4 separate regions of the Homo sapiens genome follow, and all the other regions are linked to region 1. Evidence: fine-mapped expression QTL. A gene starts in region 1. Each other region holds a variant in brackets. All regions are shown on one strand. Distances are between the middles of the regions. Region 1 holds the start of UBL3 (ubiquitin like 3). Region 2 has its middle 18 kb from the start of LINC00544. Region 3 has its middle 33 kb from the start of LINC00544. Region 4 holds the start of LINC00544 (long intergenic non-protein coding RNA 544).

Region 1 (4,166 bases):
GGAAAAATCTGCAACTGTGTCCAATAATGTTACCTCATGCCTTAACAATGTTAGGGATGAGTTATAATGAGTTTTATTGAGAATAATGTCTCAGCCCCTCTTAGAAGAGTAATTGGAAACACAGCGACTTTTGAAAGACATTGCCTTTTGTAAAGGTGGCAGTGGTAACCTGCAGCAAACAGCAACTCTTGCCTTTCTACTTACAGTGGCACTTAGGCCCGGCAGTGCCATGGCCAGGCAGTGCCATGGCCAGGGAGGTCATTGGATAAAAGTTGGAGTCAAGGGTATGGTGGAGGGACTAACTCTGTGAGTTAGAGCTTTCAAAATGTGCTCCAATATTCCTTCTGAGCTCATTGGTCAATTGAAGTATTTTCACCTGCCCTTATTTCCTGGGGGGCTGGTGTAGGGGTAGGGGGACTCTGTGGTTGCTAAACATTGCAAATGAGCAACCAAGTAACAAAGGCCATGGAAAATCACGTAACTATGGACTTGGAAATATCTAGACAAAGTCCTGAAGCCTAATCACAGTGAGATTTGGGCCTCTCTTCTCTTCTGGCCTTTGGTTTTTCGGAGAATTTGATCTATCTTCCTCAGGGTGATATAGGCCCTTAGGAGTGTTTGGAATTTCTCCACCCAGGCTACTCAAGAGGCAGGTACTCTAAATGTCCTGTGGGTTTCCAACTGATGAGAAACCCAACTGGAGAGATTGCTGTGGGGAATCACGTAGGCTTCTAGACAATGAGCTCCCTGAGGACAGTGACTGGATTCTGCCTCTTTTCAACAGCCCTATAGACAAGGATGTAATAACCCCCATTGCCAACCCAAGACCTTGGCATTTCTGCCACATGATGCTGCTGTTCGCTACAGTGACTCATTTTTAAACTCCTAGTGCCTAGCAGAGTGCCTGGCACATTTGTTTGCTGAATGAGAGAATGAGTAGTGACATTTCATATCAAATGATGCATTATTATTTACAAAGTGATTTATTTCCCATGCATGAACTCATCCTCATAACTACCCCTACTTTACCCCGGAAGGTAGGCAAGACCATTTTACAGATGAGGTCACACAGCTGTAGGTTGGAGAGGTGGCTTTCAGACTCTAAATTCATTGGCATTTATATATAGGCATCATATTGAGACTGCCCTTTCTAAAGTACTCTGTCAAAGGACTAAGAGATATGAATAGGGATTCAGATGTTGACCTCAGATTTAGGAACAAAATGCAGAAATCACAAATGTCCATCTGAATGGTGTCTCAACAATGGCATTATTTTCTCCTATTTGCTAATCACTGCAAGGCATATAGGTTTTCAATTACATTATGAGTTACATAGAATAGAATTTAGGGTCCAGATGGGTAAACTGGTGAATCCCCATGAAGTTTGTAGTAGCTATTTCCTGATACAGATTTGATATAATAACACTGTTGTATGTAATACAGTTTTGGTAATTTCAGTTAAGTAGATTGTAGCTTTATTGCCCTGGGTCTTCAAGGAAACACATGTTCAAATATTCTCACTGCTTAATGAGATCCTTGTTCCTGTTGAACTTATGTGACCTTATTGGAAATCAATGATTGCTTTTGTTCTTCAAAATGTAATGTTGAGGAGACCTAGATGAAATCACTCTACAAAATGCATTGAGATTGCAGGATGTGGAGAATGTGCTGTAATTAAAATGAATGATTCTGCTTGGAGGTACAGCATATTTTAGCTCTGTGTGCATATCGTGCATAAGGGAATTTCTCTATGCAGAATTATTTTCTCCCAACAATTCTCATGATCACAGCACTCCTGGTAGCAGGTATCACTTAACTCCTGGGCAGCAGCTTGTCCAAAGCAAGGGAAAGGGAGCTTTCCTTTCCTCGCAACTGTTGCTATGGGGGGCGTGGCTTCGGAGCTGGGTGAGGAGGCGTTCGGCGGCTCCCTCCCCCCCCCACCCTCGTAGACTACACTTCCCGTGATGCTCGAGGGAATGGTCTCCGTGGTGACGCACTTGGTGTCCGCGGAGGGAGGACGAGGACGGGGGCGGCGGCTGCTGCGAGGGGGGGCCCGTGCTCTCCCCGTTTCCCTTAGTCGCACTCAGGCAGCCGCCGCCGCCGCCGCTGCCGCCATGTTGGTTTGAGAGGCGATGACAGGAGGCGGCCGCGGCGTGTGGGACTGAAAAGTGAAGGAGGAGGAGGAGAAACAAAGCTCTGAGAGGAAACCATTCCCGGGCTGAGGAGAAGGAGGACCCGGCCTCTTCCGGGGACCAGCCGAAGTCGGCGTCGCCCGGAGCTCGCGAGGCCGGGGAGGGGAGGGGAAGGGAAGGCGGAGACCGGGGAGGCGGCGGCGGGGAAGGCGGAGGCAGAAGAGGAGTGGCGAGGAGCCGGAGACGATGCGCCCCGACCCCAGCTGCTGTCCGGAGGCGCCCGCGGCCTGAGCCCAGAGGGGCTGTGGAGTGTCCCGGCCGGCCCCGAGCACCCCCGCGCTGTCGGTCCCCCGCTCCGGTCTTTCGCTTTGGCTTCCAACTAGTTAAATGCCCTTGAGCGCGGGTTTCCGCGGCCCGGCTCTTCGCCCCCGCGGCGCGAGTTGAGCCGTTTCCCCGCGCTGTCCGCGCGGGCGCTCCGACAGCGGCTCTGCAGGGTCCGCGGCCAGCGTCCGGCCACCGCTCGGCCGCCACTCAAGGCTCACGCGTCGATGTGTAGCTACATAGTTATCTGTGTACATCCACGCTGGGGCATTTTTCTCCTGCTTAATGAGGACTTGACTCGGGAGCAAGTGTGAATCATTGCCGGGGCTGGGAAAGGAGGAAGGCGCATTTAACCCCCTCCCACCCCTCTCCATGTCCGTGTGTCACTCGGCTCGGTCCACCTGGCGCGGCCGGTCCTGGGGCTGCTGCTGCTGTTGACGACGACGACGACGACGGGGGCTGCCTCTGCTGTCCCGGGAGTTTCCTCCTGCTCCGGCCACACAGCTCCTGGGGATTGTTCCTCTTCGAACCAGAACCTCGGCCTGACCGGCACTTTGGCTCCAAAATAACTTTATTTTTGGGGGAGAAAGCACATCACGAACCAGTCAAAATCGTGGTTTATTTCTGTAACGTGAAGACTTCTGCTCTTTTTTCTTTGTTTGTTTTTTTCGTAAACATCTGGGTGTATATCAAACGGCAAGATGTCCAGTAATGTCCCGGCGGATATGGTAAGTGACGGATAAGTTATGACACTGATTTAATTGTGGTTTCCAATCTTATTTAATCGGAAAGACGGCAGGCGTGGGGCGAAGATTTGCTGGGGACTGTCGAAAAGCCACTGTGCTGAGCGATTTGGAGAAGTTGGAGCTTCTGGTTTCCCCCTTTTAGGAAGTACTGCTTTTAATATGGGTTCTCTCATTTGGTCGTGTTTTCTAAAGCATTGAAGATAGTGGAGAAGTAGGGAAATGTATCATGGTAGCTTGAGGGGACAAAACATCTCCCTCTTCGCTAGAAGCCTCCGAACACTAGTATTTTAACGTTTCTGAAAACGTCAGGGACAGTGGGCAGAGCTGAGGACGGGTGTCCCTACGAGAGAATAGGTAGGGAAACGGGAATCTTGCTTTATGACACAGACGAGATCGTCATTGCAGTAGGGACGAACTTGATATTTTTCAAGAACAGGGATGCACATCTCTTCAAGAAAAAGTATGTTAGAATTTGCTGTGAGGTTTTTGAAATGTCTGAATACGGATGGCAACAGAAATATAAAGATATTTTGGGATTTTCAGAAACGTAGGCTGACCCTGTATTGGTACTTACAATGAATATTCCAGGGCTTTTTAATGCCAGATATTTATTAATAGTAGATTCCATATTAGACATAAAGCTAAGGAAACATAGTATTGAGCCTCGATCACTGAGTGTTGAGAACTTGAAACAAAAAGTACTGTTGTTTATTGACGCCTTTCTTTGTTTTGTTTATAAAGGGTAAGGTTGTGAGTCGGTTGACTAACAGTAACCGTGTAACCTTACAGTGCTGGGGCTGGGCTTGTGTGAGTGTGAAGTTACATTTTGCAGTCCTAAGGACAAACATAATGCATTTAATTACCAGGAAGAGGAATAATCCTGTTTATGAAAGAATTGAAGTTAACGTAGTTGTGCTCACATATGTTAACATTTGAGTGTTTGTGTATTCAGTGGAAACAAATTGAA
Region 2 (4,166 bases), 100 kb before region 1:
TTCTTATTTTAATTGGCCTCCAAGCTCTGAGTCTGCCCTTCTTCACACTTTCTTCTCAACTCTTTCCTTTCCATTTCTCTATTCATCTTTTTTACCTTTCTTGTCTGAGGATATGAGTTGAAATGAATCCTTTAGTGAGAAGGTGACTCGATTTACATGCAGAATTTCAACGCTTTCAAACCTCTCTTGTTTGTGAACCTGTTGGAAAGCACTGATGGCCATGCAGGCAGCAGGTGTAGAGAGTGATCCTCTCAACGCTTGGTAGCTGAGAACAATTCATATTTATCATACTGGCTTTGGTCAAGTCAAGTGTGAATGGTGTTTGACTGTACTCATTTTACTTTTTTTTTTTTTTTTTTTTTTGAGATGGAGTTTTGCTCTGTTGCCCAGGCTGGAGTGCAATGGCACAATCTCAGCTCACTGCAACATCCACCTCCTGGGTTCAAGTGATTCTCCTGTCTCAGCCTCCTGAGTAGCTGGGATTACAGGTGTACACCACTATGCCCAGCTAATTTTTGGTGTTTTTAGGAGAGACAGGATTTCACCATGTTGGTCAGGCTGGTCTTGAACTCCTGACCTCAGGTGATCCACCCACCTCGGCCTCCCAAAGTGCTAGGATTACAGGCGTGAGACACCGCACCTGACTTTTTTAACATAAAAAAAGTGCTTAAAGCTTGGATCAACTCCTCTTCTGATTGATCAGTATTTCTGGGCATAGTGTTTTTTGTTTGTTTGTTTGTGTTTATACTTGTTATCTGGATATGTTTTGGGATCAAATAAATACCAAATCACAGAGGTTATCGAATAGAGTTCTTTAAAAAAATATTTTCACAGCCGGGCCAGGTGGCTCATGTCTGTAATCCCAGCACTTTGGGAGGCTGAGGTGGGTGGATAAAACCTGAGGTCAGGAGTTCGAGACCAGCCTGGCCAACATGGTGAAACCCCATCTCTACTAAAAATAAAAAAACTTAGCCGGGCATAGTGGTGGGCACCTGTAATCCTAGTGACTTGGGAGGCTGAGGCAGGAGAATCACTTGAACCCAGGAGGTAGAGGTTACAGTGAGCCAAGATCACACCACTGCACTCCAGCCTGGGAAACAAGAGTGAAACTCCGTCTCAAAAAATATATATATATACTTTCACATCTCCATTGGAAATTTTTAAAAGAAACTTTTTTTTTCTGTTTAATTGATGCCAGGTACTCAACTCCCAATGCCATCACTCCCACCAATGCAGACTCAGAGGAAGAGTTGCAGGAAGCAGGGATCCTACTGGTCTTTCTGTCACTATAACCCAGCCCTGGCATGGAGCCTAGCACATGGTAGGGGCTCAAAGGACATTTGCTGAATGCATGAGTGAGTAAGTCAGCTGAGGGTGCCATGGAGGGGGCTAGAGGACGCTGTGCTGCAACCAAGAGCTCAGGGCATCCTGCTGTCCTTGGAGCAGAGGGAGGTTTTGCTGGGACAACAGAAGACCAGAGAAAGTGAAAATCACACTTTGTTCTTGCCCAGATATCTCAACCCCTCTGCCATCCAAAAATCACATTTCTGTTTGGTATACTAAATGTTTATTGAAACTTTTGCTATATGTAGACTCTATGTTAAACTCTAGGGATACCAAAATAAACAGGACATTTTCTCTACCGGCAAAGATCTCTCAGTATGGTAAGAAAAAGAATGATTTTTTAACTAAAAGGTTATACCTCCATGTGTTACATTTTGGACTAAGCTGAAGCAATATTTTATTTTTTTAAATCAGGTAGATGAATCAGTTTGAATTGCCATTCTGTGTGTCTCTCTATTTCCTAAATATTTTGCGCTGAAATAGCACAAGAACAGCGGCACATTCCCACAGACGGCCCCTGACGGGACTGTGTTTGGGCCGAGTCCATATTTCCTCC[G/T]TCTCTTGCATCATTTGTTCTTTGCCCTTTGCAAATCTCAGCACCATTTCCTCCAGAGCAGCTCCTGGAATTTTCGATGGGAGCTGTCACCTGGAACCAGCGAGCTTTCTCTTTCATACCTGTCATAGAAGGAGCTCACTTCTCACGAAGACCCGCCCATTTTACCCCCGACCCCGCTGTGACGTTAGGGAAAGTTTCCTTCTCTAGAAGTGTCTAGAAACATGCTTGGCTTTAACTAATGCATCTAGAGTGTCCCATCTGTTTAACAGCACTTTGCTCAAGGAGCCCACGTACTTGTGTTCCACTTCCTGCCTTGGCGACAGTCTCCGCAGGACAAGCCCGGCCCATCGCAGAAGCCCCGTGTCCTGTAGATGAATGAGAACTTAGACAGCTAACATTCTACCTGATGCTGGAACTCAAGGTCCTTGACAAATGACCATGTAGCTTACATTCTGAGAAGTGACAGTGACCTCTCCATTGTTGGAGAGTGCCATTTCCAATTCTGAGCACTTTAGTTTGTTAGAAAGCTTTTTTCAGCAAGTTGTTTTCGTCTATTGAACTCAAAATCAACCTCCTTGCCACTTCCTTCCTTATTTACTTCCTCTGTCTTTCCCTTGACATTTACTCACTCTTTGCTCCTCTTCTGTCTTGTCCTAAAATAAAACCGATTTATTCCTTCGTCCTCACAACACCTCCTCCAATATTTGAAGACAGGAAGATAGTTCCTTGTTTTCTCTCTTCCAAGCTAAACACACTCAGAGCCTCCGGCCAGCCTAGATCAGGAACCGTTTCTAAAGCCCTCAGCACCTCCACCCTGCCTTTCTAAATGAGACATCTTAATTATAATGCCTTGTAGCGAACATTATTTTCCAATTATCATCTGACCAGCATATAGTGTTACTGTTACTTATTATCTGGACACGGTATTTTTATTTAATGGAGCTTACAATTACATTCGCTTTTTAAAGCGACTGCATTACTCTGTTGGATCACATGAGCTTTTGGCCGAAGAAAAAGTCCAGATATTTTGAAAACAGAACTGATGGCAATTAAAGCAGATCTCCCCCGTTATGCCATTGCGCAATCAATTTCTGGACCTAAATGTGTTGGTACAATACCAGCTATATTGACGTAAGGGTATTCTTCAGAGTCATCCCAAGCTAGTTTCTGGCTTGTCACTGGAACCCAAGCTCTACCTCTGTACCCGGTGCCTGCCCACTGGAATGTAAGGTCCTCAGTTTCAGCAGCCCAGCTTGGGTTGAGACAACATCTCTGCTTTTTTTTTTTTTTTTTTTTTTTGAGACAGAGTTCTGCTCTTTCGCCCAGCCTGGAGTGAAGTGGTGCAATCTCAGCTCACTGCAACCTCTCCCCCACCACCCCATCAAGGGTTCAAGTGATTCTCCTGCCTCAGCCTCCTGAGTAGCTGGGATTATAGGCACCTGCCACCATGCCTGGTCAATTTTTGTATTTTTTTTTTAGTGGAGATGGAGTTTTGCATTGTTGGCTAGGCTAGTCTCGAACTCCTAATCTCAGGTGATCCCCTGGCCTCAGCTTCCCAAAGTGCTAGGATTACAGGCTCTGCTTCTTTTTTAATTTTACCTAGTACCAAGCACAAACTGTGGAAGAAGTCAATTCCTAATTAATATTTGTTGAATGGCTGAATGAATGCATCGTATGAGGCTTTACTAACAACAGTTGTTTCCCAGAACGAGCTAAGATTGCCATGAAATGCATAGACTCCTTGCATGCTTTATGTTGTATTTCTTTAGATTTTTTTCTTAAGAAAACCATGGATTCATTCTAGTCATGGAAAACCCCCATACTTCCCAGAGAACTTTGAGCAATTTTCTCTTTAAAGAAAGGGGTGACCCATTTACTGTACTCATCATTATAGTTTAGTTGCTAGAGTTACTTTCTAAGCACACCAGGACAAGAATATTATCTTTCTGATATGTTGGCATAAAAAACGATGTTGAGAAAAGCACATAGACCATCATCACATCCCTTGGCACCAGCAATTTCTAAGCAGTATGGCCAGAGCCATTGCTGTGAGTAGGTTTTTCCTGGCTGAGACCAACCAGGCCTGGGGAAAATAACTTGCAAGTTATCTAAACCAGCAAATACTTGCAAGAAGGTAACAGGAGGGCAGATTTTGTTGTCCATTCCTATATCCATCATTGTCAAAGCAATTATTTTTAAAGATCGTGTGGCTTCTACTACAATCACTCTAACCTACTGCCACTGAAGGAATTGGTATTACGGATGT
Region 3 (4,166 bases), 120 kb before region 1:
TTTCAGAGAGAAGGAAAATTATACAGGCCAAAAACTCAGATCTACATAAAGAAAGGAAGAGTGTCAGAGAAGGAATAAATGAAGGCACAGATGATTGTAGCATATAATTAAGTGAACTGAATGACAGAAATGTTATGAGTTGGGAAGGAGGAATTGGGATAGTCTGTTTTAAGGTAACTGAACTGTCCATGAAACAATGTAGTATTACTTGAAAGTGAACTTAGATTCATTGTAAACATACATTGTGAACTCTACGGTAACCACTTACAAAAAAATTAAAAGACATATAATTGATTTTCTAAGATAGAAAAGACAACAGAATCATATAAAAGGCTGCATTAAAAACATAAGCCTATTGAGTTTTAGCTCTTATTAACACAAAAGGCACAATCAATGAAAGAAAAGATTGTAAGTTGGACTTTATTAAAACTAAACACTTCTGCTCTACAAAATATGCTGTTAAGAGAATGAAAAGACAAGCCACAGATTTGGAGAAAACATTTGCAAGACACATATCTGATAAAAGACTTGTATCCAGAATATACAATTAACTCTTTAAGCTTTATAATAAGACACAAGCAATCTAATTTTAAAATAACCAAAAGATCTAAATAGACACCTCACCAAAGAAGCTATACAGATGGCAAGTAAGCACGTAAAAAGATGCTCAACTAGGGAAATGCAAATTAATCAATGAGATACATTACACACATTAGAATGACTAAAACTGAAAACACTTTTCAGTTAGCCAGGAGGGCTATGTTCTGTTGATCTCTTGCACAGCATGGTGACTATAGTTAACAATAACGTATTATATATTTCAAAATTGCTAAAAGAGTGGATTTTAAATGTTTTCACCATGAAGAAGTAACTATGTGAGGTGATGGATGTATCAATTAACCTGCTTTGATTATTCCACAATGTATACATGTATTGAACCATCACACCGAATCTTATAAATATATACAATTATTATTTGTCAATAAAAATGAAATATTTTTTTAAAAAACACTGACAATACCAAATGTTGGTGAGAATATGTAGCAACAAGAACTCTCATCCAATGCTGGTGGGAATGCAAAATTGTACACCCATTATGGAGGAGAGTTTGTCAGGCTCTTACAAATCTAAATATAGTCTTACTGTACAATCCAGGAACCACTTTCCTCAACAGTAATCCAACTGAGTTGAAAACATGTCCATACGAAAACCTACACGCATAAATGTTTATAGCAGCTTTATTCATAATCACCAAAAATTGAAAGCCAACAAGATGACCTTCAATAGGTGGATGGATAAAGAAATTAGTACATTCACACAATGGAATATTATTCAGTAATAAAAAAAATAAGCTATCAAGCCAAAAACTGACATGGAAGAAAGTCAGCTGCATACTGCTAAGTGGAAGAAGTCAGTCTGAAAGGTTGCATACTAAATAATTCCAACCATATGACATTCTGGAAAAGTCAACAGTATAGAGACAATAAAAAGATCAGTGGTTGCTAGGTATATGGGGGAAAAGGGAGAGGAATAAGTAGGTGAAGCACAGGGAATTTTTAGAACAGTGAAACTTTTCTGTATGATACCGTAATGGTGAATACATGACATCATGCATTTGTGAAAATCTATGGAACTGTAGAACACAAAGAGTGAACCTTAATGTAACTATGAACTTGTTAATAATAATGTATCAATGTTGGTTTATTTGTTTTTTGTGTGTGTGTGTGTGTGTTTTGTTTGTTTGTTTGTTTCTTGAGACGAAGTCTCACTCTGTTGCCAGGCTGAAGAACAGTGGCATGATCTCGGCTCGCTGCAACCTATGCCTTCTGGGTTCAAGCAATTCTCCTGCCTCATGCTCCTGAGTAGCTGGGACTACAGGCGTGTGCCACCATGCCCAGCTAATATTTGTATTTTTAGTAGAGATAGGGTTTCACCATGTTGCCCAGGATGGTCTTGATCTCCGCCCACTTTGGCCTCCCAAAGTTCTGGGATTACAGGTGTGAGCCACCGTGCCTGGCCTCAATGTTGGTTTATTAATTGTAACTATTGTACCACCCTAAGGCAAGATGTTAATAATAGGGGAAACTGTGTGTAGGAGAAGAGGATATAAGGGAACACTGCAC[T/C]ATCTGCTCAATTGGCCTGTAAATCTTAAATTATTCTAAAAATAACATCTATTGATTTTTAAAAATATAAAAAAAGTCAAGGACAGACAAAAACATTCAAGAAAATCAACTACAAAGTACGTTCAACAACAACAACAGTATGCCTGCTTTCAAATTCTTACTCATCCTCTCTGCAAACCACCTCAAATCCCATATTCTTGGCTGGGGCCTGGTTGTCCAATCTAGCTCATGCCAAAATCCTGTCTTGAAGCAGGGGAGTCATGCTTCAATTCTATGACTCAGAAGTTCTCCAAATGTAGTTGAGATAAAGCTTGTTAAGAATGTAGCATCCTGGACCTGAGGTCTAGTGATTCTGACTCAACGGGACTCTATAATCTGCATTTTCCTTAAGATCGTTAGTGACTCTGAGGTATCCTCTGAGGGTTGCTACAGCTGCTGATGGAGTGCTGCGGCGGTATGATGTTTTCTCACTAAAGTGAGTCTACCCTTTTGCTGGTTTCAAGAAGAGTTTTTTGAAAGTCCACTGCCATAATGCTTCCGAAAGATCAGATCTCTATACCTGCCTGAACTAAATCAATACATCTTTGCCTTTTGGGAATTAAACTTTCGGCCTCCCCTACAACTGGCCTTGCTGTGGTCCCATCACACATCAAGTCCAGACCTATGCAAATGATATTTATTTTGGTGATGGGATTGGTCATACTGAGGAGTGCCAGGAAAGACGTGAACACTAGACATTCATTCTGCAAATGTTTACCAAGTAACCTGCTACGTATCCCAGTGACTGGAGCCTTGTCTTTGCTCCCTCAGGACCCATTTTCTGGTTCTCCTGGGGACTATGTGTGTCAATGTAGTGCTGGAAGTTCTAGTCAGTGCAATAAGGCAAGAAAAGGAAATAAAAGATATAGATCAGGAAGAAAGAAGCAAAGCTGTCTCTATTTGCAGAAGACATAATTGTCTACGTAGAAAAATCTGGAGAAATCTACTGTATAGAATTGGTCCTAAATCTTTAAATGTCTAGTAAAATTCTCCAGTGGAACCATCTGGTCCTGTAAATTTCTTTTTTGGGAATACTTGACTTATGAATTCAATTTTCTTAATAGTTATATGACTATTTAAATTATCTATTTTATATTAACTTGTGGGAGTATGTGTTTTTTCAAGGTATTAGGTCATTTCATGTAAGCTGTCAAATTTATGTGTGTTTACAGTTGTTTATAGTATTCCCTTATATTATTCCATTAATACCTTTTTGATATCTGCAGGGTCTTGTTTCATTCCTGATACAAGTAACCTGTGTATTTCCCTTTTCCTCTCTGTCAGTTTTGCTAGAAGGGAATTTTTTTTGCCAATTTTACTGATATTCTTGAAGAGACAGCTGTTTGTTTCATTGATTTTTAAAAATTGTTTTTCTAGTTTTAATTTCATTGATTTTTGCTCTTGTCTTTATTATTTCCTTCTGCTTGCTTTAAATTTGTTTTGCTCTTCTTTTTTCTAGGTTCTTGAGACAGAAGCTTAGATTATTGATTTCAGACTTTTTCTCCTTTCCTAATGTATATATTCAGTGCTATGAATTTTCCTCTCAACACTGTTTTAGTTGTGTTTCACAAATTTTTATACGTTGTATTTTCATTTTCATTCAATATATTTCTAAAGTTCCCCTGAGACTCCCTCTTTGATTCATAGATTTAGAAGTGTGTTGTTTAGTTTCCGAATGTTTAATGATTTTTCTGTTATCTTACGGTTATGTCTAGTTTGATTCTATTATAGCTGGAGAACTCACTCTGCATGATTTCAATTCTTTCAAATTCCTTAAAGGTTTCTCTCATGGCCTAGGTGTTGTCTATCATGGTATATGTTTCATGAGCACTTGCAACAAATGTGTATTCTACTGGTATTAGGTAGACTCTTCTATAAATGTCATCAACCTGTTGGTCAATGATGTCATTGAGTTCTTACACATCTTGCTGGTTTTCTGCTGAATTGTTCTGTTAATTTTTCCAAGACAGACATCGAAGTCTCCAACTGTAATTGTGACTTTGT
Region 4 (4,166 bases), 86 kb before region 1:
AATTAAAGCCCTGGTGTCTAGTGCCGAGAAGAAAAGAGAAAACAGCATTGGAACCCAACTGGCAGATGTGCTTGTTGTGCTGAGAGAAATTCACAGAACCTTGTGGTGCCATCTGGCTGAGAGCTGACTGTTTGCATGATGCAGTTCTCACTTAAGGAGGTGAAGCATCAAACTCCCTGGCCCCACCCACCTGCCTCTGCATCTGGGCAGCTGAAGGTAAGGGCACTCAGCAGCCCCGATGTAATGCCACATCCCAGTGTGCTCAGGAGGAAGCCACCAATCTTTGTTCTCTGCCTAAGGAAAGAAAAACAGCTAAAACAAAGCATTCTAGGACTGACCTTTGGTACAATGTTGGAAATATGAAAGAAATATAAATGTAACATTTTAAATTTCTGAAACGAGGAATAATTATCAATTTCATATACACAAAGTAAGCCCAGTAGGCAGGCCTACTAGAGCAGTGGTCTCCAAATTTTTTGGCATTAGGGACGGGTTTCATGGAAGACAATTTTTCCACAGATGGGGTCCGGGGGATGATTTTGGAATGAAACTGTTTTGCCTCATCCTCAGGCATTAGATTCTCATAAGAAGCACCCAACCTAGAGCCCTCACTTGCGCAATTCACAATAGAGTTCACGCTTCTATGAGACTCTTATGCTACCGGCTGATCCGACAGGAGGCAGAGCTCACGTGGTAACGCTCACTTGCCCACCGCTCACCCCCGGTTGTGTGGCCCGGTTCCTAACAGGCCACAGACTGGGACTGGGACCTGCCCGAGGCTGTGGGGTTGGGGATCCCTGTGCTAGAGGCTCTCAGAAGCATTCTCCATCTCCAGATAATATTCTGTCCCTCCACATGTGAAGGAGACACAGAGCTTTCCTGATGGAGCCTGGCAGGTCTGTCTGTCTTTATACACACCCATTGTATAGAGAAGTATTCTGGATCCAGGGTATATCATGATCATTGTCAATTTTCAGAACATCTCCTGGGCTGGTGAACTGTGGTTAGATAATAAAGAGTTGCTGGTGAAATGCCTCAGGGTGTGGTTAGAAAAAAGAAAGAAAAACAAGTGGTAATATAGGGTGCGGGGGGAGGTATGGGGAGGCTGGGTAACTGTGATTTTTAACTCAAGAAGGAAAAAGGGAGAGGAGAAAAAATGAAGACTCTATAGCTCATCTAGAGTGAGCCAAATTGGATCCCAAACACTAACACTTAATGCACTAAAAACTGTATAATTCAAACATCTCTCAACACAGAAGATGGGTACCACGTGTGTAACAAAACATAATTGAGCTGAGGTGAATCCCTGTCCTTAAAAGAGGTTTATAAGCTAATAGTGGTGATGAAGGTGAGGAAGACTCTTAGTTCCACTCAGAAAGTGAGAGGATCTGAATACTCCAGAAAAGGAAAAAGATAAGAGGAGAGATGAAATGAGATTGGCAAATTGTTGATGATTGTTGAAACTGAGCAATGAGTATTGAAAGGCAGGGATCATTACCTGACTCTTCTATCCAGGAGGCCGTTAGTGGACCAGGAAGTCAGGACAAGATCTGAGGTGAAGAGCTGGTGAGGAGTGAGACAGCTGCCAAGGTCCACCTTGTTCCCCTAAGGAGCTGAGCTCTTTCTCTTCCTTCCTTTTAGACAGGTTCATTAAAGCTGGCCCACTCCACATGACCTAGAAGGACTGGGTCAACCCTGAAAGGTTTGCTCCATAGCCCAGAATGACAACCTCTGACATCACAAATGCAGGATTGGAGAAGGCATAGTTGGCATGCAAGCCGTATTGATTTTTTTACAAATCAGAGCTTCATGCTTGCTGCTGAGAACATTTCACCGGGCCACGAAGCTGCTGCAGGAAGTTTTCAAGTCCTCTCCTCTACACCGTGACCTTAACTTAGAGAGCACTCTCAGCCCCTCCTCCCATCCCCCCGCACCTGCCCAGGTGGGCCCCACTGCTCTCCACACCCACACCCACCTGGTCGTTGCTCTCTACCGAGGAGGCTCTCCCTGCTTTGCTGTGCTTTTGTCAACTTTCCTGCAGCTTCCCTGTTCTGGGAGGCTGAGCTAGAGTGGAAACGACCAGCTTCCCCAAACAGGCAGCTCCGAGAAGGC[G/A]TCTGCTCCGCGTCTGCTCCCACTGAGCCAAGGTCCAGCCCAAACGCTCAAATTAGAGCTTGTTAGCCAATTGCTGAAAAACTGCAGGGGGACTCATTTGTAAGCAAACTAATGAGACATCCCAGGATAGAAAGCCTGGTTTTATTTTTAGCATTTCAGAGCTGACACCCCAAACACCTCTATAACCACCTGCCAGTCTGAAGAGGGAACAAGCAGAGCTCAGGATGTGGTGCCGTGCGAGGGCGGTAAGTGGAAGGAAGCAGCGCATGGGGAGGGTGCCTTGGAGACCAGAGGAGCACAGCAAGGGGAGGATGCTCAGCTCTCACACCTGCTCTGTCTTGGTCATAATGAAAAAACAGCTCTGACACAGGGAGTGTGTCAGAACACCACAGTACCCTCTGGGACTGTGTGGGAAAACAAAAAACAAAAACCAAAACAAGGGAGACTCCTTCCCTCTTAACCTCAAATGGTCCCTCTTAACTCCAGACCCTTGAGCGTCTTGCTCCGCCACTGCATGGGGCAGGTGCAATGTACTCTGTGATCTGTGATCTCCTTGCTATATTCCTGGCAGGGGCTCTGCTACTGTGGGCTTTCACAGCATGACTCCAGCCTTGCTGCACTCAGGCCTCACTGTCACCAAGTGGGCTGGGGCTGCCCACCAGGGGGGCATGCAGGGCCTTTCCCTCTCCCCATGCCCTGGTCTCAGGTACACTGCTGCTGCATGCCAGCTCTTTTCTGCTGCATCCTATGCAGCCACTGGGCCACTTGCTCCTCCCAGGCAAATGCTGAAGAGACACTCTGCTCTTCAGCAGATTGGTGCACACCTATATTTAGCCACATTGTGGAATATAGTGACAATGATACTTTGTACTCAGGAGACACCTTTTATCAGAGGAGTGTGATGCACTCTGCAAACATCATCAGCACGGCACCCTTGGGGAGGAAAGACTGTGCCAAGTCTTCCAATCCCCAGGCTTACAGCTAGAGAGATTGAAGCCAGGGAGGCGGGGTGTCACCAGAATCTCCTAATGAGTCAGGAGGCCTGAACGGAGTGATGAGGTGCTCCTGGAAGGTTTTCATCACACCTGCCTCTTTCTGAGCCTGCAGAGCCTATAGTTCCCCCTAGAGCTGGTCCTCTCTCCCTCCCTGGCACAAAAGTGTTCCTTTGCTCACACAGCTGTCCCTGTGCCTGGACACACTTGTAACTTGACTTTAAAAGCCATCTGCCAGCTCACTAGAAACACAGACATGCTGTCTGTGCTGGGGCTTACATTTGCATCACCGCGGTACCTCGATGCTCAGGACAGATATTTCTACTCAAATCTATACCTTGCCTGAATGGAGCTATGAGGGTGTGACCCAGAGGAAGTGCTGTGAAACTCTGCATAAAGAGATTAGTTCAGATGCCCTCTCTTTTATGACACAGGGTAACCAATCAGATACTCCACTTCCCAGAAGTGGCTGGACACAGACTGCCCTGTAGTAGAGAGACAAAGCAGTGGGATGAGTGGGTCCTACGTAGGGATCCTCAGGGATTCCTTGGGCACAAGCAGGATCTCTCTTCTCAGAAAGAGCCAACAATACCATATGTTAGAAGCTCAAAACCAACTGTATTCTTTTCATTCTGTTATCACTGATAATTACTAGCATGCCTTTGTAGCAGATGCAACGGATGTGGCAACATTTCTCATGCCTTAGCAAGGCCGAAATGGCAAAAAGCAATGCTAACCAAAGGGTCTTTGGATAGAGAGTGTTCTGTGTAGGGGTAGAACAGTGCTTTGGTTCTGGACACAGGCTTTATATTCCCCAGACCCCAATATAAACCCCACTACATACCCTGTGCCACAACTGATGATTGACATGACTTCATAGTGAGGCGCAGTCTATGTCCTCCCTCCTCAAACCCAAGCAGATATTTGCAAATTCCTGTACCACTAGCTTATGGTGGACATGATGGGGTGTGACTTCCAAGACTAGAGTATAAAAGGCAATACCACGTCCATCTTGGCACCTTGCATTGCTCCCATGGCGAAGCCAACCTCCACGCCCTACAC

Evidence for each region. PIP is the estimated chance that this variant, and not a neighbour inherited with it, causes the effect. A credible set is the group of variants that fine-mapping cannot tell apart.
Region 2: its variant is the best candidate, but not a certain one, in a credible set for the expression of UBL3 in whole blood (TOPMed, PIP 0.64).
Region 3: its variant is the best candidate, but not a certain one, in a credible set for the expression of UBL3 in blood mononuclear cells (TOPMed, PIP 0.72).
Region 4: its variant is the best candidate, but not a certain one, in a credible set for the expression of UBL3 in whole blood (INTERVAL, PIP 0.51).

What each region holds. Positions count from the first base shown.
Region 1 is chr13:29,848,527-29,852,692 of GRCh38, reverse strand. UBL3 (ubiquitin like 3) reads left to right here and starts at 2,076. Exons shown (of 5, transcript NM_007106.4): 1 at 2,076-3,181. The coding sequence starts at 3,155. RefSeq lists silencers at 1,921-2,030, 2,301-2,600 and enhancers at 2,161-2,230, 2,901-2,970, 3,441-3,510.
Region 2 is chr13:29,952,596-29,956,761 of GRCh38, reverse strand. No RefSeq gene overlaps it. Among named protein-coding and RNA genes, the nearest start is that of LINC00544, 18 kb to the right of the region's middle. The variant G/T (reference allele first, on the strand shown) is at 1,901.
Region 3 is chr13:29,967,737-29,971,902 of GRCh38, reverse strand. No RefSeq gene overlaps it. Among named protein-coding and RNA genes, the nearest start is that of LINC00544, 33 kb to the right of the region's middle. The variant T/C (reference allele first, on the strand shown) is at 2,124.
Region 4 is chr13:29,934,034-29,938,199 of GRCh38, reverse strand. It overlaps LINC00544 (long intergenic non-protein coding RNA 544), which reads right to left and starts at 1,669. Exons shown (of 5, transcript NR_033889.1): 1 at 1,499-1,669; 2 at 919-998; 3 at 191-294. RefSeq lists enhancers at 2,236-2,355, 2,486-2,605, 3,326-3,385. The variant G/A (reference allele first, on the strand shown) is at 2,113.